6 separate regions of the Homo sapiens genome follow, and all the other regions are linked to region 3. The links come from fine-mapping of genetic effects on gene expression. A gene starts in region 3. Each other region holds a variant in brackets. All regions are shown on one strand. Distances are from middle to middle.

Region 1 (4,081 bases), 73 kb before region 3:
GGGCACGGCAGCCCCGTGCCTGTCTGCAGGACTCAGGAAACCTGACTACCTGGCAAAGTTGTCTTCGGAGCCAGGAGCGAGAGGCGCGACCACAGAGGCCGAGTCTGAGAACACGTCCACGAGCAGCCCGCTGCCGCCGGAGGAGGGTGGGGGGCCCGCGGGGGCAGGGGGGGCAGCCCCGAGACCCAGCAGGTCTGCCGACGGAGAAGGCGTAGACTGGAAGAGAAGGAAGGAGAGCATCAGCAGAGAGCCTCCCTGGCCTGGCCAACCCCAGGCAGCTCACGCCTGCACGTCCTCCCCCATGGCACCCCCTTGGCATCCATGCACTCCCAGTGGCTGGGGCAGGTGGCACACAACTCAGTGAGTGACCAGAGAGTGAGGGCTAACAGCCACTTCCTGAGTATATCCCAGACTCCAGCCTAAAGATAACTGCACTTAAAACATCAGTCATAATTTCACTAAGGCACCCTACATTTTTTCACAAATGCTATTTGAATGAAAAAAATTCTCAAAAAAATTTTGCCATGAAAGACATAAAAAAAGGCCAGACGCGGTGGCTCACACCTGTCATCCCAGCACTTTGGGAGGCCGAGGTGGGCGGATCACGAGGTCAGGAGATCGAGACCACCCTGGCTAACACGGTGAAACCCCATCTCTACTAAAAAATACAAAAAAAATTAGCCGGGCGTGGTGGTGGGCGCCTGTAGTCCCAGCTACTCGGGAGGCTGAGGCAGGAGAATGGTGTGAACCCGGGAGGCGGAGCTTGCAGTGAGCCGAGATCGCACCACGGCACTCCAGCCTGGGCGACAGAGCGAGACTCCATCTCAAAAAAAAAAAAAAAAAAGAAAGAACTAAGATCATGCATGTTACTGCCAACTGTCCAATAAGAAAGTAAGCTTCCAAAGATGAAAAAGCAAATAACTTACTCGGGTGCATTATTAATCATTAAATTATTACTAAATCATTATTAATCATTAAAAGTCTACAGAACGGATACTTTTAAAAAATAATTGCTTTTTGGCTGGGCATGGTGCCCCACACCTGTAATCCCAGCACTTTGGAAGGTTGAGACAGAAAGACTGCTTGAGTCCAGGAGTTTAAAACTAGCCTGGGCAACATAGCAAGAGACTGTCTCTGTTTTTGTTTTTTTTGAGACAGTCTCACTCTATTGCCCAGGCTGGAGTGCACTGGTGTGGGCTCACTGCAACCTCCACCTCAAGCGATTCTCCTGCCTCAGCCTCCCAAGTAGCTGGGATTACAGGTGGCCGCCATCACGCCCAGTTAATTTTTGTATTTTCAGTGGAGACAGGGTTTCACCATGTTGGCCAGGTTGGTCTCGAACTCTTGACCTCAGGTGATACGTTCACCTCGGCCTCCCATGAGCCACCGCACCCGGCCCCAGTAATTGCTCTTTGATCCTGGGGCAAAGGCACAAGGAAAGAGCGCCTATGATCTCATGATTAAACTCTCACAACAGGGCACAAGCAGCAGCTCAGTCCATCGCATGCTCACCCATCCAACAGGGCAGCAGGCTCCCCAGCAATGCCCCAGCAGCCTGACTTTGGGAGCTCAGACCTGCTCTGGGCTCCACGGGTCCTGCCCCACAGCAGCCTGTGCACCAGAGGGACTCAGATGCTCCCTATAAAAAGGACACCCAGCCTGGCACGGTGGCTCACACCTGTAATCCCAGCACTTTGGGAGGCCGAGGGGGGCAGATCCCAAGGTCAGAAGATTGAGACCATCCTGGCCAACATGGTGAAACCCCGTCTCTACTAAAAATACAAAAATTAGCTGGGTGTGGTGGCACA[C/T]GCCTGTAATCCCAGCTACTCAGGAGGTGGAGGCAGGAGAACTGAAACCAGGAGGCGGAGATTGCAGTGAGCCAAGATCGTACCACTGAACTACAGCCTGGCAACACTCACACTTTGACACTATACACCAGGGGCTCTTGGTGGAGAAACCCCCCACCCAGCTAAGAGCGTTCTGGAGATGTGGAGGGCTCTGACTATCACAAGGATATTGGCATTTCACAGGCAAAAAACAGAGACACAAGACACCCTAACTTGAAGATTCGTCTTGAGTAACTTTAGAATGTTCCACTGGACATCTAAGAAGGTAAAAAATTAGTTTGTAATTATCTGAGACTCCACCTGAATGCCATTTTACATTAATGCAAAGTTAAGGTGTCACACTGTACTTTCAAAAAAACTACATGTGTGGGTTTGTGATATATGAATTTTACTCAAAGATAAATGAGGCATCACAAAGTGTGTTATGCAAAAAAGGTGCAGGTCAGAATGGGGGCGGGGGGTCAGAATGGGGGCGGGTGAGAGTCAGAATGGGGATTGGGGGGCAGTCAGAAACGGGGCAGGCTCCCAGGCTCTGCTCTTGTGACGGAGCACCTCTGCAAGAGAAGACGACACGGGTCTCATGTGCTCCAAGGGTGGGAGGTCACAGAGGAGCTGGCAGAGAAGAGTCCCAAAAATATCCAAGGCGTGTCTCGATGAGACCATCTGAAGGCGGCGCTTTGCTCCCTACGCCGGGGACAGCGCCCGCCAACACTGTGGCCTCCACAGCCTGACAAAGCTGTGAGCTGCGTGGGAAGCCATCGGCCTTGGCCATGGCCATGCACCTGCAGCCCAAATGGAGACAGTTTCTCCTCTGCATCTCATCACAGATGTTACCCTGGTTCCTGCACTGATTCAAATACATCTATGGCTTTTATTTTATTTTATTTTATTTTTTTGAGACCGAGTCTCACTCTGTTACCCAGGCTGGAGTGCAGTGGTGCAATCTCAGCTCACTGCAACCTCCGCCTTCTGGGTTCAAGCAATTCTCCTGCCTCAGCTTCCCGAGCAGCTGGGATTACAGGCACACACCACCACACCTGGCTAATTTTTGTATTTTTAGAAGAGACGGGGTTTCACCATGTTGGCCAGGCTGGTCTCAAACTCCTGACCTCAAGTGATCCGCCCACCTCAGCCTCCCAAAGCGCTGGGATTACAGGTGTGAGCCACCATGCCCAGCCATCTATGGCTTTTAACTGCTTTCTAAAGTAGGAAAGCCCTTTGCCCTAGTAAAGGCATTTGTACCTGAAACGTTACCACAGATTGTAACAGCGAGGCCAGATGCAAGGCCCCAGGACAGTAGGGTCCTAACACCCACTTCAGGTTCTTCATCTTCCTTATCCTCTCAGGCCTGGGAGACCCTCCTCAGGGAGCAGGCCTGGCTCCTGGGCCACACCAGTTCACCTCCTCCCTCCAATAGCAGGACAACTTGAGGGGTGAAGGTTTTGCCTACAAGGGCCCCAGGCTCCTGCATGTGAAGCCAGGCAGCCTCTGATCCCCACACCCCTGTGCTCCCCAGCACACCCGGGGACACGCACACCACAGCCTCCCCCAAGGAGCTGTGTGCAGAAAGAGGATGCTCGGAAGAAGTAAAATGTCCTGGCCTCATCTATGATGTTAAATAAAAGACATTTTGGCCAATGTGACACCAAGATAAAGCCACTGTCTCTCGTGGGAAAGGCACATGTGCTGATGCCACCCTGAGGCCCCTTCACGGCCCATACAGAAGACCCTGAGCAAGAAAACTTCGCCAGGAGTGTCTCCCCATAGGGAGGGGCCTCTCACTGGGGCTCCCGTGAGCAATGGGAACAGATTGGAAAGCACAGGATAGCAATGACACCCACACACCATAGCTCTCGGTCAGAACAGAGGGGCCCACACACCACAGCTCTCGGTCAGGACGGAGGCGCCCACACACCACAGCTCTCAGTCAGGACGGAGGTGCCCACACACCACAGCTCTCAGCTCAGAACAGAGCTGCGTGCCTCGGCCACAGACACCTCCCTAAGGAACCCACCCGCCAGGCACCACTGACCATCAGGAGTGAAGCCACACTCAGAAAATCCACTGAATGAGCCCTGAAGGGGGAACTCCCTCCAAGAAGGCACCTTACAGAAATGCTGAACCTCACTGGACCCTCATCCTCCTTTTCAGAGGGCAGCACACTGCTCTCACTCCCAGGGTCCAGAAGCTTCCATCTGATCCCTAAGCCACACAGTCAAGGCCAGGCCCTCCAA
Region 2 (4,081 bases), 27 kb before region 3:
TACTAAAAACCTGGGGGCAGGAGAAAGAGGAAATACTACTACATGAGCTAAATCAACTTTCCTAAACGGAATCTACAGATTTTATATAAGGTTGTGAAACCACAAACTAAAACAAACAGCACATAATGTAGAGTTATAGAGGTAACCACCAGGAGAAACAGGCAGTTAACCCCCCTCCTCTGTGGGACAGAAACAGAGACAAGTTCCAGCTTCCCATCCACAGCTTGCTTTTAATTGCCCAATTTTCAACACACACACACACAAATACACACACACACACACCAAATACACACATGCACACATTTACAAACACACATGAATACACATTTATACAAACACAAATACACATATATACACACAAATACACGTACAAGCACACATAAACCAAATACACACAAATACACAAATGTACACGCCACACACAAATATACATATACACACATTTACAAACACACATAAATACAAATACACAGATACACAGAAATACACACGTACACAAACACAAATACAACATATATACACAAATATAAACACAAATACAACATATATACACATATACATACATACACATAAACACAAATACATACACACACACAAATACACACATGTACACACACATGCATAAATACAAATATACGCATACACACACACTTTAAAACGAGGGCAGGCCAGCCCCTGAGGAGGGGGAGAAGCATGGAAGGTGATGACAAGAGTGAACTTTGGGGCCAGCACGTGAGGTGGGAATCCAAGTGAGGTGGGAATCCAAGTGCAGCCTTTGACTCATTCTGCTGTGCCTCTGAGCTCCAGCTCCCTCAAAAGGAAAGCCACCAACGGCCGTACAACCTCACGGCATCATGTCTGTGCAAGAGAAGGTAGAGAGGCCAGGCACAGTGACTCACGTCTGCACTTTGGGAGGCTGAGGCGGGCGGATCACCTGAGGTCAGGAGTTCAAGACCAGCCTGGCCAGCATGGTGAAACCTCGTCTCTACTAAAAATACAAAAATTAGCCAGGCATGGTGGCAGGCGCCTGCAATCCCAGCTACTCAGGAAGTTGAGGCAGAAGAATCGCTTGAACCCAGGAGGCGGAGGTTGCAGTGAGCCGAGATCGCGCCATTGCACTACAGCCTGGGCAACAGAGCAAGACTCCATCTCAAAAAAAAAAAAAAAGAGAGAAGGTAGAGAGAAGAGTAGTGTCACGTCTCGGCCAGACCTGAGGACAGGAGAGCCTAAGCAGCCCCAGTATCCACAGAGGGCTGAGCATGATGCAAGAACCAGGGATGGAGTGACCTGGCCCAGCGCCCCTACTGAGCAGAGACGACGCAAAAGCAGGAAAAAGGGGAGGTGCAGGGACAGCAGGCAGACGGAGGCAGACGGAGGCAGACGGAGCCAGGACGGAGCCAGGGACTTCCAACTGCAGCTGCCAGGCAGGCCACTGTGTGAAGACAATGGGGGGGGGGGGCTCTTACGGTAGAAAAGCCACCCAGACCATGCCTCCTCTGACAGTTCAGGAAAACTAATTTCACATAAAAATACGCATTCAGGCTAGGCGCAGTGGCTCACGCCTATAATCCCAGCACTTTGGGAGACTGAGGCAGGTGGATCACTTGAAGTCAGGAGTTTGAGACCAGCCTGGGCAACATGGTGAAATCCTGTCTCTAGTAAAAACACAAAAATTAGCTGGGCATGGTGGCGTGCGCCTGTAATCCCAGCTACTGGGGAAGCTGAAGTGGAAGAATTGCCTGAACCCGAGAGGCAGAGGTTGCAGTGAGCCGAGATCACACCACTGCACTCCAGACTGGGCGACTGGGTGACAGAGAGAGAGGCTGTCTCAAAAACAAGAAAGACAATCCAGCACGACCATGGCTGAGATGACGGATGATGACCTGCAGGCAAGACTGACACATTCAAGTCAACTACCATGTCCCAAATTTACCAAAAACGCTCTAGTAGAAGCTGCATGATCAACGCAGCACCCCTGCAGTCATGACGGACGCAGGTAACAATCTGAGCCCTCCAGTGCCTGTCAGGGGCTCTCCTGTAAAGGAGCAGAGCGTGCTCCTGGCCAGGCACCAATTCGTGCCACTGACACTGCACTGATCTCCATAAGGCAGAGGGCCTCACAGGAGGACTTCAACCACCCCACCGTGCCGGGAACAGATCTAGCAAAAAAATCTTATCTTTTTAGATAAATTAGCTTGAGGAGAAGCGGGGAGGAGCTGAATTCTGAAAGGGTAAAGCATGAGCAAGAGTAACTGACCCACAGCAACAAGCCCAGCCACACAGAGTCTGATCTTTGTTAAAGAGTAACTGACCCACAGCAACAAGCCCAGCCCCACACACAGTCTGATCTTTGTTAAAGAGACGCTGGCCACAGTCATCCTGCACTATTCCTGTCTGAA[A/C]TGCAGCCAGCCCATCAGCACTAAGGGTACTGTACTTGCATCAGGGAATTCTCGCAGTGAACTTAGGAGCTCTGGTGGCTAATGAGTAACCTGGACATGCCATAGCTACTGGCAAAAGCAAGTTACAATTTGCATTCCATGAAGTAGCAAAGAACACACTCTATAGGGGCAGGCTTGGATAAAAGCTCTTGAATTTTTACAATTATTGTCCCTGGTCATTCTTCAGGAACAGCATGCTGGTTAATGATTTCTTGTTTACAGGCTGAACTAATCAACAGAGAGGATTAGTATTCTGGGAACAGCCCAAGTTCCACAAAAAATAGTAAAGGAGCCTATGACAGATGATTATAAAATACCAAAGTACCAAAATCTTCTGTCCTTGCAATGTGCAGCAAAACTTGGTCTACAGAGTTTTAGTCTGTATATAAAGTGATTTCAGACTGGGCAGTGGCTCACGCCTATAATCCCAGCACCTTGGGAGGCTGAAGTGGGAGGGCTGTTTTGAGTCCAGGAGCTCGAGACCAGCCTAGGCAACATAGGGAGACCTGGTCTCCATAAATAATTTTTTAAAAAATTAGGTGTGGTGGTGCATGCCTGTGGTCCCAGCTACTAGGGAGGCTGAGGTGGGGGGAATCACCTGAGCCCAGGAAGTCAACACTCCAGTGAGCCAGGACAGACATCGCTGTACTCCAGCCTAGGCAACAAGGTGAGACTCTGTCTCAAAGAAATAAAGTGATTCCGCCGAGTAACCCAAAAGCCCAAAATTGACCAAGCCCAAGAATTTTTGAAGGAAGCTATAATTGCTAAAATTACTATTAAGGTGGTTAGCACAGCAGTCAGCCAAGCAAACTCTGAAATCAGGCCTGGACTGGAATGTCACTCCATGTTTTACTAGCTACGTGACCCTGGGCTATCAACTTAACCGCAACCTGCCTCGGTTTCTCTTCTTCAAATGGGTGTGCCATCAATGAAAGAGCTGTGATGAGAAGTGTGAAATAAGGAGCAAAGCACTGGTCCAGCCACGAGAAGCTACTGTGCCCATCACCAGGGATAAACTCACACGTTCTTTTTTTTTTTTTGAGACGGAGTCTCGCCCTGTCACCCAGGCTGGAGTGTGGTGGCACGATCTCGGCTCACTGCAACCTCCACCTCCCAGGTTCAAGCAATTCTCCTGCCTCAGCCTCCCAAGTAGCTGGAATTACAGGCGCCTGCCACTACGCCCAGCTAATTTTTGTATTTTTAGTAGAGGTGGGGTTTCACCATATTGGTCAGGCTGGTCTCAAACTCCTGACCTCAGGTGATCCACCCACCTCGGCCTCCCAAAGTGCTGGAATTACAGCTGGGAGTGCCTGGCCTCATCTTTTTTATTACAGCCATCTGGGTAAGTGTGATGCAGTATCTCATTGTGATTTTGATATGCATTTTTCTGATAGCTTTTATATGCTTATTGAACATTCGTAAATCTATTTGGAAGAAATATATATTTTAATACTTCATCAATTTTTTTTTTTTTTGAGATGCAGTCTCACTCTGTCACCCAGGCTGGAGTACAGTGACATGACCTCGGCTCACTGCAACATCCGCTTCCCAGGTTCAAGTGATTCTTGTGCCTCAGCCTCCCAAGAAGCTGGGATTACAGGTGCACACCACCACACCCAGTTAATTTTTGTATTTTAGTACAG
Region 3 (4,081 bases):
ACAAACAAAGAGAAAAAATGCTACTCGTAAAAGTGCTGATCTGAGGGTGTTTCTAAGCCTTTTTTTTTTTTTTTTTTTTTTTTGTGAGAAAGGTCTCACTCTGTCACCCAGGCTGGAGTATGGCGCGATCTCAGCTCACTGCAGCCTTAACCTCCTGGGGTCAAGTGATCCTCCTCTCTCAGCCTCCCAAGTAGCTGGGACTATAGATGTGTACACCAATACGCCCAGCTAATTTTCGTATTTTTTTGTAGAGACAGGGTGTTACCACATTGCCCAGGCTGGTCTCAAACTTCTGGGCTCAAAAGATCCACCTGCCTCAGCCTCCCAAAATGCTGGGACTATAGGTTTGAGCCACCGCACCCAGCTCTATGCTTTTTTTTTTTTTTTTTAACAGAGTACAGGAAGGGTTAGATGGTCCTCTACCCTTCCACAGAGTGTGGGAGAACCACTATCCTCCTGATCCTCCATCCCGTCTAAGGAGATGAGAATTCAAAGGGAAGATCACAACAGTCCCTCAAAATACACATTAAAAATTATGAGGGTGCCGTGGCTCACGCCAGTAACCCCAGGACTTTGGGAGGCCAAGACAGGTGGATCACTTGAGCTCAGGATTTCGAGACCAGCCTAGGCAACATGGCGAGACCCCCCCATCTCTACAAAAAACACGAAAATCAGCCAGGCATGGTGGTGGTGCACGCTTGTAGTCCCAGTGACTCCGGAGGCTGAGGTGGTAGGATCACTTGAGGTGGGAGGTTGAGTGCGCCGTGATGGAACTACTGCGCTCCAGCCTGAGAGCCAGAGCAAGACCCTGTCTCAAAAAAAAGAAAAACAAAAATCATGAAGTCAACTATTTGCTGGATAACAAGGAAAAAAATCAACGCAGCAGACAGGAAACTGGCTTTGTTTCTCCCTCAAATTAAATAAGGAGATGGCCTCTGAAAGCCAAGAGGAGGTTCTGCACACCAAAGTCAAATTAATTGGTGGACCGGTGCACCCACCCAGCCACCCTGCACATCCTTCTAACAGGCCCAGCCTTCCTGGCTTGTTTAACGGTTTGGTGTGGATTTTTCCCACCCCGAGGGGACAGGCACGGGGCTGAGAACGAGGTCTGTGATTGGAGCAGCAGGCAGCGAGGCCATCCCACACCCCGACTGCTGCTCGTGTCCAGATTCCCTCCGGGAATGAGTCATTTTAATCGTCGTAGGTGAGATCTAATCAGGGGTTAATAAGCCTCCAGAACCCAGGTCACAAAGCTGTTTCCTGGGAAGACACTGATTTCCAGATTTCTGCTCCCAAAGCTAAAATCCACGCCGTTTTGGAAAACGCTGGGTTAAACGCTCCAGTACTAGAAAGACCAAGGTGACATCATGCTGGGGAGGGGCGTCTTGGCCCGGAACCCCCTTGGTGGTGCCGCAGCCCCCCGCACGGACCAGCAAACGGGAGTGGAGATGTGGATGAAGGGCCGTGCCCTAAACCCCTAGACCCCGCACCCCTAGACCCTGGACACCCCACCCCGCACCCCCAGACCCAGGGCCCCGCTCTGCATCCTGACCCGCACCCCCATACCCGATACCCCAAGACTCTGAGCGCCGCCCGCACCCCCAGACCCTGGACCCCCACCCCGCACCCTGGCCCCCACCCCCAGACCCGGTACCCCAAGACCCCGAGCGCCGCCCGCACCCTCAGGCCCCGGGCCCCGCCCGCATCCCAGCCTGCACCCCCGCCTCGAGGCCCCGCCCCGGGCCTCCGCTCCCAGACCCCGTCTCCGCCGGCGGCCCCGGCCCCGGCCCCACGCCGCCCCCGCCACTCACAGTTGCGGATATCCGAGATGAAGACCGCCAGGCCCCGCATCCCGTCCCCCTTGGACACGGCCGGCATCTTCCGACGCTCGGGAGCGGCCTCGGCTGGCGGACCCGGGCGGAGGAGCGCGGGGAGCGGGAAGCGGGGAGTGCGGTCGCCGTCACCGCCGCGGAGGAGCCGCCGGGGAGCCGCCTAACCACGGCCGCCTCAGGGTCCCAGCGCCGCTTTCTGGGCCGCCGCGCGCGCGCACGTACGGCGCCCGCACCAGCACGCACGCGCACGCACGCGAGCGACGACGGACGGCGGCCGGGGCGGGTGTCGCGTGAGGCAGCGCGCGCGCGTCCGCGGCACGGGGGCGAGCCGGTCGAGGCAGGCGCGGGGGCGCCCCCTGCAGGCGGACACCATGGACGGAGCCGCTGAAGCCACGCGTTCGCGTCCCGGGGCCGCGCCAAGCTGGCGATGCCGCCCGCGTCCCCCACGGGAAGGGCGTGGGTCCGGGCGGGAACCCGCGTGTGCAGCGGGCCGCCTCTGTCGTTGTTGGTGGTCACTGCAAAAGAGGCGGCCACGCAGGCACACGCGTACGGCCTCGTCCTGGGCCTCGGCCCCGCTAGCTTGCCCCGAGCAGTCTCCGTTTTCTTACTTGGAATAAACGACCTGTGAGCGCTGGGCGGCGGGGCAGCTCCGAGGCCAGGGCCTTGTTTGTTCCGCGGGGGCCGGGGCGGGAGGGCGGCGCCGGGAGGAAGCTGGGGCTCCAGGCGAAGGGGTCACAGCCGCTGGACGGCCTTTGGCGAGGAAACCCTCCCCTAGCACGGTATCCTGAGACGGTGGGGCTGGCCCGCCCCTCCTGCCGCCCTGAGCCGCCAGGGCCACATCTCTTGCGGTCCCTGAGCTGGGGGCGAGGCAGGCCCCGTGCCCGACCCAGCCCAGGGTCTGTGTGGCAGCCCAGGTGCCCCCTCCACATCACCTGGGCCTGCAGAGAAACAACCACCCACCCCACCCCAGTGACAGCGGCCGGGGGCGGCAGCCCCTGCGGAATCTAGTCCCTCGGCGGCGCCAGGACTTTTGGCCACTGTTGCCAGGGCCCCCTCTGCTCCCCAGCCCTCTGCACCACTGCAAGCTGGAGGCCTAGGCCCACCCCTGTGGACACATCGCAAGGGAGGACCTGCTGGGCCAGGCTGCACAGCTCCAGGTCCCGGCCAGGAAGAGACCCCAGGGAGTGGGGAAGCAGATGGCCCTGCCTCACTGTCCTTCCCAGAGCCAGATGGCTTTGAACAGGAAGCTCCCTCCTGCTGCAGTGGGGGGATCTGGACCCTGTACCTGGAACTGGCCCAGACCCACCAGCCAGGGCTTTGTCCCCACCCTGGCTCACTTCCGCAGCCCCAGATGAGAGCTTAGCCCTGGTGGAGCCCGGCCAGGAGGAGGGCACAGGACCCATGCCCCTCCCCAATGAACCGGGTGCCGCACCCAGGCTCTGGGCCTCCAGAACTCCTGGGGAAAACCAAGATCTGTGACAGACCCCAGTCAGCATAAGGCAACCAAGTCCATCACTTCCCAAGACAGAGGCACGGAGCCGACCCAGCAGAGGGCTTCCTGGAGGACGGTACACCCCTCCGGAGTCCCTATCCTCTCCCAGTGCCACCTCCTGGCAGAGAAAGTGGTCCCGGGGCTGTTCATTCTTCAGCCTCTCCCTTCCACCAAGAAGCTTCCCTCCCCTGTCCCTGACAACAAATAAAGGCCATTCTGGACACAAGAGCATCTTGTGCCATGTGAGGGGTCCTGGGCTGCTCTCCAGGACAGTCCCAGCAGTCACGAGGACCGTCCACTAACACACGTGGGCAGAGCATGGGCTCTGGGCGTCAGGAGGCTGGCATGCCTAATCCAAGCTCCCATTGGCAGTGGCAGTGCAGAAGACCGAGACAAGCAGACCACTGTGCCCCCCCACCAGCAGCCACTCACAGAGCAGGGCAATGGGGGTGCTGCAGGGGCTGCCCACAGGAGGGCTTGGGCCTGGCAGGCATCCCCCTCCGCCCACTCGGAAGACTCCTCCTCAGTGCCAGCTCTGGGATTCCCACAGACATCCTCCCGTCCACACAAGAGTGTTTAGGGGTCCCAGAAGGCCCGACATGCAGCCATGCAAAAGACTTCCCACCTCCTTCCAGCGTCGTTGCCCTTGCAGACACGCAAGCCCTCCAGATGATTCACTCCAGTCCCAGCCTTGGGTCTGAGTCCATGTGGGCCTCTCTGACCACTGCCACTCCTCGGCTCGGGAGAGGCCAGCTTC
Region 4 (4,081 bases), 100 kb before region 3:
TCTGGCGCCTCTTGCCCTGGGACAGGCTTTTCCCGCCTGGACGCTTACAGCCTGCAGGTCCCCCAGCCACGGCCACCCCTGCAAACCCACGGGCGGTGAGGGCTGCTCACTGCGGTCTAGGAGCTGCCGAGGGAAGGCAGGGTTTGAGCCGGGCCCAAGGGACAGTTACACGTCCCTGCCTGCTGGAGGCCACCACTCACCAGGAACCTGGGCCGGGCACATTGGCACGAGGGGCTGTGCACGCCCAGGGCCTGACATAGAGTTGCGAATGCAAGTGCAGCTGGAGAGAGGTCATGGCCCAGGCTAGAGGGGGCGTCTCCCTGGAGCCAGGCTGGAGGGGCGTCTCCCTGGAGCCAGGCTGGAGGGGGCGTCTCCCTGGAGCCAGGCTGGAGGGGGCGTCTCCCTGGAGCCAGGGAGGGGAGAGTGGGAGGCAGTCAGTCCCACCCAAGCCCCAAGAAGACCCTCTCCTGCAGGTACGGTCCTGAATGACCTCTCCAATAACCACACCTGCGTGCCCGTCACCCAGTGCCCCTGTGTGCTCCACGGCGCCATGTATGCCCCCGGGGAGGTCACAATAGCTGCCTGCCAAACCTGGTGAGTGAGGCGCCGGAGGGGGCTCTGGCCGGCCGGCAGGGGTTCCACTGGCCTAGGGCAGGCAGGGGTGTGCTGTCTGGCTCCAGCGGCCCTGCCCACCATGCCGCTACCCCCACGCCCACCCACAGCCGGTGCACCCTGGGCCGCTGGGTGTGCACGGAGCGGCCGTGCCCCGGACACTGCTCCCTGGAAGGTGGCTCCTTTGTTACCACATTTGACGCCAGGCCCTACCGCTTCCACGGCACCTGCACCTACATCCTCCTCCAGGTAGGACGAGCCCTGTGGCCCGTGGGGAGGGGCGCTCCCGGTGACCCCACCCGTGTCTGAGCCCCGCCCCCTCGCAGAGCCCCCAGCTTCCCGAGGACGGTGCCCTCATGGCTGTGTACGACAAGTCCGGCGTCTCACACTCCGAGACCTCCCTGGTGGCTGTGGTCTACCTCTCCAGGCAGGTAAGGCCTTTCCTGCGCCCATCCCTGCCAGCAGGGCTCCGCTCCCTGGTGCCTGCACCCTGACTCAGGCCACCCTCTCTCCAGGACAAAATTGTGATCTCTCAGGACGAGGTGGTCACCAACAACGGAGAAGCCAAGTGGCTGCCATACAAGACTCGTACGTCCTGGCCCAGTCTGTGGCCCCCCAGAGTTGTGCCTTCGGGGCGGGCTGCAGTGGGTGGGGAGGGAGCCCAGACGGCCCACTGAGCACTGCGTCCTGCAGGCAACATCACGGTCTTCAGGCAGACGTCCACCCACCTCCAGATGGCCACCAGCTTCGGGCTGGAGCTCGTGGTCCAGCTGCGCCCCATCTTCCAGGCCTATGTCACTGTTGGGCCCCAGTTCAGAGGTCAGACCAGAGGTGAGTCCCTGCCTCTCCAGGTGGCCCTGTTGCCTCATCCCTACAGGGTCTGGCCATGACCAGGGGAGGAGAAAGGTCCAAGAGAGGTTCACACAACCCTCTGTGTCCGGGGAGCCCCCAGGGGTAACAGGCACGTGTGGCCCACGCAGCCTCTCACCCAGGGTGCTGTTAGAGGAAGGACGGGAGCTCCAGGGCGTGTGGGCAGGAATGGGTGCAGGAGGGATGGGTTCAAGTCGAGCTCACGCCCCGCCGGCTCAGGGCTCTGC[G/A]GCAACTTCAACGGGGACACAACGGATGACTTCACCACTAGCATGGGTATCGCCGAGGGCACCGCCTCGCTGTTTGTGGACTCCTGGCGGGCGGGGAACTGTCCGGCCGCTCTGGAGCGTGAGACTGACCCCTGCTCCATGAGCCAGCTCAACAGTGAGTGTCCGGCCCCCCACTCCCCTGGCTGCCCCCCCAGCGCCCACAGTTCTGACAGACCCCTGGACTGGACCACAGGCCCAGCTGCCAGGGTGGGGGGTCCCTGGGAGGAGCCGTAGCTGGAATGGGAGGGGCCGGGACTCACGCCCGGGCCTGTCATCCCCAGAGGTGTGTGCAGAGACCCACTGCTCCATGCTGCTGAGGACAGGCACGGTGTTCGAGAGGTGCCACGCCACAGTGAACCCTGCACCCTTCTACAAGGTGAGGGCCCGAGGGCGTCTTGGGAGGGCTGCAGGGGAGGCTGTGGTGGCTGACAAGGTCTCAGGCACCCAAGGGCATAGGTTTGGGACCCCCATGTCCCCAGGGCAGGGTGCCTGCCACCAGCCCATGCTGGCTCTCTGCCCGCAGAGGTGCGTGTACCAGGCCTGCAACTACGAGGAGACCTTTCCCCACATCTGTGCCGCCCTGGGCGACTACGTACACGCCTGCTCCTTGCGGGGCGTCCTGCTCTGGGGCTGGAGAAGCAGTGTGGACAACTGCAGTGAGTGCCCGACGGGGCTTAAGCGGGGTCACGGCAGGCTGGGCTCACGAGGGGGTGTCCTGGGACCCCAAGCTCTGAGGCTCTGCAGTGCCCGGCAGGCAGGGGAACCCGAGATTGCCCTCCCGGCCGCCCCCTCCCGGAGAGTCTGATGCCCGGGTCCCCCACAGCCATCCCCTGCACGGGTAACACCACCTTCAGCTACAACAGCCAAGCCTGTGAGCGCACCTGCCTGTCGCTGTCGGACCGTGCCACCGAGTGCCACCACAGCGCCGTGCCCGTGGACGGTTGCAACTGCCCCGATGGCACCTACCTGAACCAAAAGGGCGAGTGTGTGCGCAAGGCCCAGTGCCCGTGCATACTGGAGGGTTACAAGTTCATCCTGGCCGAGCAGTCCACTGTCATCAACGGCATCACCTGGTGAGGGACCGGGCAGGGGCCAGGCGGGGGGTCCCTGCCAGGTCCCGGGGTCTCACGCAGCCTCTCTCTTGCAGCCACTGCATCAACGGGCGGCTGAGTTGCCCGCAGCGGCCACAGATGTTCCTGGGTACGTACAGCAGCGCTGGCCGCAGGCTGGGACTGTGAGGGGCCCCGGCTTCCTCTGAGTGTCCTGACCGCGCACCCCTCTTTCCTGCAGCCTCCTGCCAGGCCCCTAAGACCTTCAAGTCCTGCAGCCAGTCCTCCGAGAACAAGTTTGGGGCAGCCTGTGCCCCCACATGCCAGATGCTGGCCACCGGTGTTGCCTGCGTAAGGGGGCGCGCGAGGAGCAGGGACAATGCCCGGGCCCCAGCTGAACCATGAGGGGGTTTCCACAGAACTCCGGGAGACCTGGCCGCATTCTGCCCTGCAGCGGGTGCCTGGGGCTGGCCACGAGGTGGAAGCGGCCCTGTGGCCAGGCAGCTGGAGGCCCCGGGGGCTCGTCTGCAGGGCTCCCTAAGGACAGTGGGCACCAGCTCGGGGAGGGTGGGCTGCCCATGTGTGGGAGTGGGTACAGCAGCCCAGCCGTGTGCACTGGGTCCCAGGACCTTCCACGAGGTGGGGGAAGCTTTGCTAAGGCAGTAAGCCCAGCTGCCCACAAAGGCCACAGAGCAGGGCTGTATTCAGGGAGAGGACCTGGGAGACACGCCGGGCAGTCTCAGAGGGGCCCAGGGCTGGGCAGCAGCTGGCTGAGGCCACCCTCCCAGGAGCTGCTGACCTGCCTCCCTCCAGGTGCCCACCAAGTGTGAGCCTGGCTGTGTCTGCGCCGAGGGCCTCTACGAGAATGCCGACGGGCAGTGTGTGCCCCCCGAGGAGTGCCCATGTGAGTTCTCGGGGGTCTCCTACCCTGGAGGAGCTGAGCTCCACACTGACTGCAGGACCTGGTGAGACAAAGCCTCGCTTCAGACGCCCTGGGCTCCTGGGGCCATCTGGGGCAGGCGGAGGCTGCCCGGGGTGGGGCTGTCCCAGAGGCGGGGGCGTCCAGAGGTGCAGTCTGGCCTCTCCAGGGACCACACCCAGTATGGCAGGAGGGCCGCAGGCCCACCACCCACACCTGCTGTCTCCACAGCTCCTGCTCAAGGGGGAGGTGGGCCTGTCAGCAGGGCACCCACTGCCCATCCACCTGCACCCTCTACGGGGAGGGCCACGTCATCACCTTCGACGGCCAGCGCTTCGTATTCGACGGCAACTGCGAGTACATCC
Region 5 (4,081 bases), 68 kb before region 3:
GGCAGGCACCACCACAGGAGCTCACCCCACAAAGCCCTGCCGATACTGGGTAGCAGCACTGGTTGCCACCACTGGACCTGCGTCCTGGAGAGACAGGTCCTCTAACTGGACAAACAGAAAGCCCGCCTGACCCCGACAGGAGCCCTCCCTGACAGTGCAGAGGGGAACAGCTGGCAAGCAGAGCCAAGCAAAAACGCAACTCTCAAAACGACACTTCTCACCTGACAAATACCACAGGACACATTCTGTTACAGGATTATTCTCATCGCATCACACATACAAGGAAAACCAGACCTAACCCAACTCACTACATAAAACCTCGAAGAGCAGGGCAGGACAGGTCCTCTCTAAATCAACAAAGCATGTGAGGACAGCTGCCTGGGTGAGGCAGTCCTGTAGGAGAGGGGACGGCCACTTCCCCTAAAACAAGGCACCACAGAGGATGTGTGAGCTGAGCTGGACAAGACGACGGTCTGAAGGAAGTGCCTTGCCCAGCAGGCACAGTGGCCCCCGGGAGAGGACAGCGGGGTGTGCAGCAGGGACAGTGGCCCCCGGGACAGGCCAGAGGGGCGTCCAGCAGGGACAGTGGCCCCCGGGACAAGCCAGCGGGGTGTGCAGCAGGGACAGTGGCCCCCAGGACAGGCCAGGGGGGCGTCCAGCAGGGACAGTGGCCCCCGGGACAGGCCAGCAGGGTGTGCAGCAGGGACAGTGGCCCCCGGGACAGGCCAGGGGGGCGTCCAGCAGGGACAGTGGCCCCCGGGACAGGCCAGCAGGGTGTGCAGCAGGGACAGTGGCCCCCGGGACAGGCCAGGGGGGCGTCCAGCAGGGACAGTGGCCCCCGGGACAGGACAACGGGGCGTCCAGCAGGGACAGTGGCCCCCGGGACAGGCCAGGGGGGCATCCAGCAGGGACAGTGGCCCCCGGGACAGGCCAGCAGGGTGTGCAGCAGGGACAGTGGCCCCCGGGACAGGACAACGGGGCGTCCAGCAGGGACAGTGGCCCCCGGGACAGGCCAGGGGGGCGTCCAGCAGGGACAGTGGCCCCCGGGACAGACAGCGGGGCGTCCAGCAGGGACAGTGGCCCCCGGGACAGGACAGCGTGGCGTCCAGCAGGGACAGTGGCCCCCAGGACAGGACAGCAGCGTGTCCAGCAGGGACAGTGGCCCCCAGGACAGGACAGCGGGGTGTCCAGAGCCACAGCCAGAGCCTGGGTTCTCAGTACATGCTCCTCCCTGACAGGCAAATGCTCTGCTGGTCCCAAGTCTTGGGGGTGAGGCCCTGACAGGTCTGGGTGCACAGTAGGTGAGGGACCCACCACGGCGCTGGTACTGGCTGGGGCAGGCTCAGGACCCCCGTTCACGTCCACACTCCTGTCCCGCTTGGTGTCCTCCAGGTCTGTCACCGTGCTGGGGCCCTTCTTCTTCTTGAGCTTTGCCAAGATGGAGGACTCCCGCTCCGGGAATGGGGGCATCTCCTCCAGCACGGTCGCCTTGGAAAGAACACAGGGTGGGACTGGTCAGAGCTCCTGGCCTCCAACCCTCAGCCAAGCCAGCCCGAAGGGCGGGGGCCTCCTACCAGAATGTCGGTGCTGGCCACGGTGCTGAGCCGCAGGTACTCCACAGCACGCTGCTGCAGCTCCACGTCTGCGTTCCTGAGCTGGCTGTCGCTGCGCAGCACGTCCTGGATGGTGGGCTTCACCTCCGGGAAGAGGTTCACGAACTTGATGTAGGTGGACAGGAGCAGCGCGCGGGTGGGGACGCTGCACAGGTGGAACTTGGAGTGCAGCAGGTGGAACTGGATCAGCGGGCTGGGGAC[G/C]GGGAGGCACAACACAGGGACACCGTCGTCCCCTCGCAGGCTGCAGCACGCCCCCGCGGGGGGGGGACGGCGGCGAGACCCCCTGGCCTGCACCAGAGGCCGCTGGTCGGGACCCTCTTCCAGCTCCAGATCCCACCGCAAAGACGCCCCTTTCACTAAGTCAGCCATCAACCCCACGTCTCCATTTTCTACTAGAATCCCTGCTTTTTCTATCAACTGAAGGAAAACAAAAAGACGCCGATGGGGAGCAGAAGCGGCTCTGCGAGGCCTCACGGCAGGGCCAGCTGGTGCCTCGCCTCTTGCCACCGACCACCGAGAGGCCCGCCGGAGCGCACACAGCCCCGACTCGCAAAGGGCCTCTCACCTGGATCTCGGGTCTCCAGCTATCAAGTTTCCAAACTCCCCCAGGATGTAGCCGCCCACTTTGACCAGGTTCTCGTGGCACGCGGGAGCCTGAAGAGCCTGCGAAGCACAAACAATGAGCCGGGGTGGCAGCCAGGTGCCAGAGTTAAGGCGAGGCGGGCACGTCCTGGCGCGGTGCACCCTACACCAGCACCAGCCCCTCAGCTTCCTGGAGACCCCAGTCCAAGTGCCCATCCCTGCCTTCCTCAGCACCCTCAGTACCTGTGTCAGCAGCAAGGAACCCAAGGCTGCCACACGCTGACCTGCCCTGGAGGGAGCTGCAGCATCCACAACAGGCTCTGGCTGGGGAGGTTCTGCCAGCGTCCTCATGGCACACCCCTTGCCGGTGGCCTAACCCTCTCCGACGGACAGGGCAGGCCCCACCACGGCATGCCCCAGCATGCTCTCACACACACAGAGGCCGGCTTTCTCAGGTGGCCCCCAGAGAGCCAGAAGTTTGAGAGTTAGGGTGAGAAGAAACTGGGACTCAGCAAGGGGCACCAACAGTGGAGGAGCTAGAGCCTCAGGGAAGAGCTGAGGGGCAAGAGGGGTCAGCAACGGCCCTCGGCACCTCCACGCAGGCAGGCTGGAACCACTCACTGCTCACCTTCTGCAACTGCCCTCCACCCCATCCTTCCTGCCATCCTGCGGGCCATACCTCGAACACAGTCTTGGCCGCGTAGCCCTGCACGTCGTCCCGGTTGATGACGATCTGAATGACTCGGTACCACACCTCTTCACTCACGTAATCACCAGCAATTCGGATCAAGTTCAAGATGGTATCCACATACCAGGTGTAGTCCACCGCGTACTTCTCAGCCAGGATGGCGACCTTCAGCACCTGTGGGGGACAGGCTGCTGAGGGCCGGCACCTGCAGGCCATGGCAATCCCAAGACCAAACTGTCGTCCAAAGTCAAAGTGAGAGTTTCAGAAGCACCTCAATGTGTCTACAAAAGTTTGGGACATGGAGGAAGCTTGAACTCGATTCTCAAAAAAGCCCACGAGCCCAGAAAGTTTAAGATGCCCTGACTTAAGCAAAGAAAGCCAGGAAGAGGCGGAGACCAGTGCACAGAAGGCCACGGCCACAGCCAGGCCACCTCCCACCTGGGCCCTTCTCTCCCAAAGCCCCAGCACCTGGCGGCAGCACTCCTCTGACCTCATCACCCTAGGCTCCCGGTGGCAGCACTCCTCTGACCTCTGACTGCGCCACCCTGGGCTCCCGGCGGCCAGTGACTGCGCCACCCTGGGCTCCCGGCGGCCACTTCTCTGCTGGTTTCTTCCGGCTCTGGCCAGTCTTTCCTGCGAGCCTCACCTGGGGGTTCCCCTTCTTCCCCTCTCTGGCTCACTCTCACGGGTGCCCCCCGGAGGCACCTGCCCAGCCCACACCCACGTGGCAGCCACCCACATGGAGCTCTGCCAGGCTGTACAACACCAAACTCATCTCCCCAAAGTCACCTCGCCTGGAACCAAGCCCCCTTCGAACAGCGCCAGCTGCCAACACCAACGCCAGCAGGCATCAAGACCGCGCACCTCCCGAGGGCACCCCTAATACCCTGCCGCCCCTCCCCACACCCTGCCGCCCCCTCTCCACACCCTGCCACTGGCCTCTCAGGTGCTGGTGACTGTGCCCCCCCACCCCAAGTCCCTGCCTGGAGCCTGGACCCCCAAACCCCAACCTGACTCCGTGACACTTCCAGGGCATCATTCCAAAATGTACTGCCTCTGAGCCCTACCCGCAGCTCACGGCTGTGCACCAGGGGCCCTCAGGCCTCACTGGCAGGGTCCCCATGTCTGCTTCCACCCCTGCCTCGCGTGCCCTGCTCCCCAGCCTGTGCTAAGGTACCTCCCACCCCTCCACGAACGG
Region 6 (4,081 bases), 44 kb before region 3:
AGGAAGACGCCACGAGGGAGCTCCCGCCCTGCCAAACACCACTGCCCTTTCAGCCCTGCGCTCGCACGCCCAGGCCACTGCCAGGCACCACCTGCTCTGCTCTCCCTGCTCCTCCCACCCTCAGCCCCCAGTTAACTTCCCCTCCCTCCAGCCTCAGCTCAACACACCCACCTCCACTCCCTCTCTCAAATCCTTTCAACTTCTATGTCTGTGGAGCCATGTGACACCCATCTCCCCCAGGACAAGGGCAGGCCCAAGTTCCAGTCCCTGTGCCTCCGTCCTCAAGGCTAATCCCCCATCCCCCCAACACACCACAGGCACTCCACAAATGCTTGAATAAACACCAATACTTATCAAAACCCCAAGACATCTACAGTCTCTCTTAATTTCTCTAAGTTAAATTTTTTGACAAATGGAAGAAAATATTACTTTATACCACCAGGGAAAACATAGAAATAATGTGACTGCAAGAGACTACACAGCTCAACGTGCAGAGCCCAAGAAGACTTCAAAAGTAGAGTGACAGGACACTGTGCACCAGCCCGGCAAGGGCTGGGGAGATGGTGGGGTGAGCACCCTCCGCACCAAGACCCAGCCATGTGCCTCCAGCGCCTACTGCAGAAACAAAGCTGTCCAAGGGACCACGGGACGGGTCTACTTGGGACAGTGCGTCAACAAGGCACTGTGTCAGGGAGACATCCTCCCCTCCTCTGGAGGCCGACCTCATGGGCACAGAGCACCAACCACATCAAACGCTGGGCCGCGTGCGGCACTCTCCAGACCAACCGGGCAGTCCTGAAACTCGCCGTAAGGGAGGTTGCAAAGAAAGGAGGAAAAGGCATGGCCACCTCATCAGGAAAACCGCATGCAGGAGGAGGAACCCTGTGAGGGCATCAGGGCTTCCTGAAGAACACCCAGCTTGGGCGGGAAGGGGGCCCGCAGGGTGTTGGCAGCAGGTGCTAACAAGGACTGGGCACGCGTCTCCATCTGCAGCAGACCCACGTGGCTCACGTCAGCTGTGGGCAGAGAAGGAAGCAGCGGCCCTACACGGGCACCGGGCCTCAGTCCTGCCAGGCCCACGCCATCCTCTGCCGTCTCCACCTGCAGCGATACTCACGATCTGCTTTTCCGTGTATCTGTTTGAACTCAGCAGGTTCACAGCCTCCATGTGTCCAAAGTCAATGTCATGACCAAGGAGAAAGATGAAGAGCAACTTGCAGACGTACTTTTTTTTACTATAGCCATCAAGAGCCTTGTCACCTACAGAAAAGGTGGGGAAGAGGTTTTATTCCAGGCGGGCAGAGGCAGGGGAGAGGGGAGAGCAGAGGGCAGTGCAGCAGTACAGCAGGCAGCACGGACAAGCCTCCAGGAGAGGGGTGGCCGGGCCCAGGCAGGTGCAGTGCAGACGCTGCTGAGCATGAATAACCTTTCTAAACTCATGGTACTCATGAGAGTCCAAGTTTTTTATTTCCCTTTTAAAAACAGGCACCAGAACATCTGGCAACAAGAGTTCTACCCTCCCACGACAACCCTGGGCAGGTGCAGCCCAGCTGGCCCTCACAGGGCCTCACTCCGACCAGCCAAAATCCCACAGAGGGCCCTGCTGTGATGGAACTTGCAAACCCTGCCTTCAACCATCAAGCTTGTCTTTGAAATCAGTTTAATTTAGGCATATGAACACAGTCTAAATTATCTGCCACTTCATAGCCATTCTAGGGCAAATCAGCTGGTCATGAAAACAAGGCCCACACGCGACGGCCCCTAGGGCTTCTGTTTCTCTGCCTCATCGCAGTTTGTCTGAGCCCCTCACAAGGGATCATGGCAGGGCAGGTTCAAAACATGTAATTGGCAGAATATAAAATTCCAAAATATAAAACCAACCCTTAAAAAAAGGGCCATTCTGGGCCCGGCACGGTGGCTCACGCCTGTAATCCCAGAACTTTGGGAGGCCGAGGCAGGTGGATCACCTGAGGTCAGGAGTTCGAGACCAGCCTCAACATGGAGAAACACCATCTCTAGTAAAAATACAAAATTAGCCAGGCGTGGTGGTGCATGCCTGTAATCCCAGCTACTCGGGAGGCTGAGGCAGAGAATTGCTTGAACCTGGGAGGCGGAGGTTGCGGTGAGCCAAGACCACACCATTGCACTCCAGCCTGGGCAACAAGAGCAAAACTCCATCTCAAAAAAAAAAAAAAAAAAAAAAAAAAAGGGCTGTTCTACATTGCCAGGAGTTTCTATCCCACCTGAGAGGTGAGGGAGTGTCCCTCAGAGCCAGCCTCCAGCAGGCTGTGGAGGCGAGCGAGAAAGGTGGCCTTGTGCAGGCCGAGTCTCACAGAGACTCTGCTGCCACAGCGTGAAGGAACGCAGGCTGGGAAGACAGCCCAGCTGCGACAGCCGCTCTGGCCCCCTTCTTGTGAAGGG[C/G]TGGGGCGCTCACACCTCCACGGACGACCTCAACTGTGTAGAATACAGACCGGCCACATTTCCTGGGGAACGGTGCATCACCAGTCGGCCAGTCAGCTGCATGCTGCACTCTGAGGAGCTCATGAGAAACCCCCCTCCTTGTCAGCGGCAAATTAACATAATTTAAAAGACCAGATGATATAAATAAAAGCAGACCCGACCTGGTTCCTCCCTCCCCCGGCCCCGACCCACTTATCTGCTTGCTGTGCCCAAGGGGTCCCAGCAGACACGTTCTCCGTGCCCTGTTTGTGCAGGAGGGCACACACAGCTGAGCACGGGCTGCGCAGCAGAGATCCTCCACTGGGAAGCCCCAGCACCGTGTCTCCTACCCAGCCCAGATTCCATCACCCGCTGGAAGCCGCCTTGGACAACCACAGCCAAAAATACTGCTTGACCTCCTCCTCCCTCCGGAGACTTCCCTGTTACTCAAAGCACCTCTCAAAGGAAAAAATAACTGACAGGGGAGAGGACCAGCGGCCCGACTGGGCTGAGTTTTGTGGGACAGGGATGGGGACGGGGATGGAGACGGGGATGGGAACAGGGGCGGAGACGGAGACAGGCTCTCTCCGAGAGGAGCCGACCAGCCTCTGCTCCCGCGGGACCCCAGACGAAGAGCTGCTCTAGAGCTCCCGGGTGCTGGGAAACTTAGGCCCACCTTTAGAAGCTGAGCCCACTGGTCAGTGAGGGTGATGCAGGATCACCTCTGGGCCTCCCAGAGATGTCACAGAGCACTCCCCTGGGCACACCACCCCTGTTGCATAAGCACCGTGAGGGGCAGCGGAAGTCGCCAGCGCGAGGAGAAAGCCACAGTGCTCGGCCCGCTGCTCATGTGGCAGCACGTGGATTCCTGGCCTAACCCAGGGCCACAGGAAACAAGCAGCAATGCTCGCTCCACACCCTCACCCATCTCGGTGGGGCAGGTGGCAGGTGAGCCCGCCAGCTCCCCTGGCAGGTGCCACTGTGAAGTTTATCCCTCCTGAAAGGACCCAGACTGATACAGTCTTCAAAATGCTGGTTTCAGTACTAGGCTAGAATTACTTTTTTATTCTAGTAATTTCAAAATGTTGAGTTGAACTTTAATATTCTGAGCTATAAAAGGCAGAGGATAACAGTAATATCTGTCTCCTTGGTTTGTGCAGATCAGAGGAGAGATGGCTGGAAAACCTCATCCTAAACCATAAAAGGATCACGATTAAGTTTGGGCTCCAGTCTGAAAGATGCAGCCACTTGCTTGTCTTGTGGTCTCAGACGTATTCCTTAACCTCTCTGAGCCCAACTTTCTCAGCAGGTTACTATAAAAATGAAACAGGGCCGCGCATGGTGGCTCACGCCTGTAATCCCAGCACTTTGGGAGGCTGAGGCAGGAGGATCATGAGGTCAGGAGATAGAGACCATCCTGACTAACACGGTGAAATCCTGTCTCTACTAAAAATACAAAAATAAGCCGGGCGTGGTGGCGGGCGCCTGTAGTCCCAGCTACTCGGGAGGCTGAGGAAGGAGAATGGCATGAACCCGGGAGGCAGAGGTTGCAGTGAGCCGAGATCGCGCCACTGCACTCCAGCCTGGGTGACAGAGCGAGACTCCATCTCAAAAAAATAAAATAAAATAAAAAAATAAAACG

Evidence for each region.
Region 1: its variant is fine-mapped to the expression of AP2A2 in whole blood (TOPMed, PIP above 0.99).
Region 2: its variant is fine-mapped to the expression of AP2A2 in whole blood (INTERVAL, PIP above 0.99).
Region 4: its variant is fine-mapped to the expression of AP2A2 in whole blood (INTERVAL, PIP above 0.99).
Region 5: its variant is fine-mapped to the expression of AP2A2 in whole blood (TOPMed, PIP above 0.99). The same link has a PIP of 0.9 or more in blood mononuclear cells and gastroesophageal junction.
Region 6: its variant is fine-mapped to the expression of AP2A2 in whole blood (TOPMed, PIP 0.99).

The regions. Positions count from the first base shown.
Region 1 is chr11:996,567-1,000,647 of GRCh38, reverse strand. It overlaps AP2A2 (adaptor related protein complex 2 subunit alpha 2), which reads right to left. Exons shown (of 22, transcript NM_012305.4): 15 at 50-216. Among named protein-coding and RNA genes, the nearest start is that of MUC6, 38 kb to the left of the region's middle. The variant C/T (reference allele first, on the strand shown) is at 1,809.
Region 2 is chr11:950,924-955,004 of GRCh38, reverse strand. All of the region lies in intron 1 of AP2A2 (adaptor related protein complex 2 subunit alpha 2), which reads right to left. Among named protein-coding and RNA genes, the nearest start is that of AP2A2, 27 kb to the right of the region's middle. RefSeq lists enhancers at 1-306, 414-1,022. The variant A/C (reference allele first, on the strand shown) is at 2,400.
Region 3 is chr11:923,819-927,899 of GRCh38, reverse strand. It overlaps AP2A2 (adaptor related protein complex 2 subunit alpha 2), which reads right to left and starts at 2,030. Exons shown (of 22, transcript NM_012305.4): 1 at 1,812-2,030. The coding sequence starts at 1,878. RefSeq lists a silencer at 1,679-2,218.
Region 4 is chr11:1,026,008-1,030,088 of GRCh38, reverse strand. It overlaps MUC6 (mucin 6, oligomeric mucus/gel-forming (gene/pseudogene)), which reads left to right. Exons shown (of 33, transcript NM_005961.3): 9 at 474-594; 10 at 723-861; 11 at 939-1,043; 12 at 1,128-1,200; 13 at 1,306-1,443; 14 at 1,702-1,863; 15 at 2,030-2,124; 16 at 2,272-2,404; 17 at 2,572-2,821; 18 at 2,896-2,948; 19 at 3,039-3,148; 20 at 3,611-3,762; 21 at 3,948-4,081. Among named protein-coding and RNA genes, the nearest start is that of MUC6, 8.7 kb to the left of the region's middle. The variant G/A (reference allele first, on the strand shown) is at 1,710.
Region 5 is chr11:991,479-995,559 of GRCh38, reverse strand. It overlaps AP2A2 (adaptor related protein complex 2 subunit alpha 2), which reads right to left. Exons shown (of 22, transcript NM_012305.4): 11 at 2,875-3,057; 12 at 2,179-2,276; 13 at 1,575-1,806; 14 at 1,315-1,488. Among named protein-coding and RNA genes, the nearest start is that of MUC6, 43 kb to the left of the region's middle. RefSeq lists an enhancer at 752-1,276. The variant G/C (reference allele first, on the strand shown) is at 1,815.
Region 6 is chr11:967,348-971,428 of GRCh38, reverse strand. It overlaps AP2A2 (adaptor related protein complex 2 subunit alpha 2), which reads right to left. Exons shown (of 22, transcript NM_012305.4): 3 at 1,118-1,260. Among named protein-coding and RNA genes, the nearest start is that of AP2A2, 44 kb to the right of the region's middle. RefSeq lists enhancers at 561-1,060, 1,061-1,562. The variant C/G (reference allele first, on the strand shown) is at 2,422.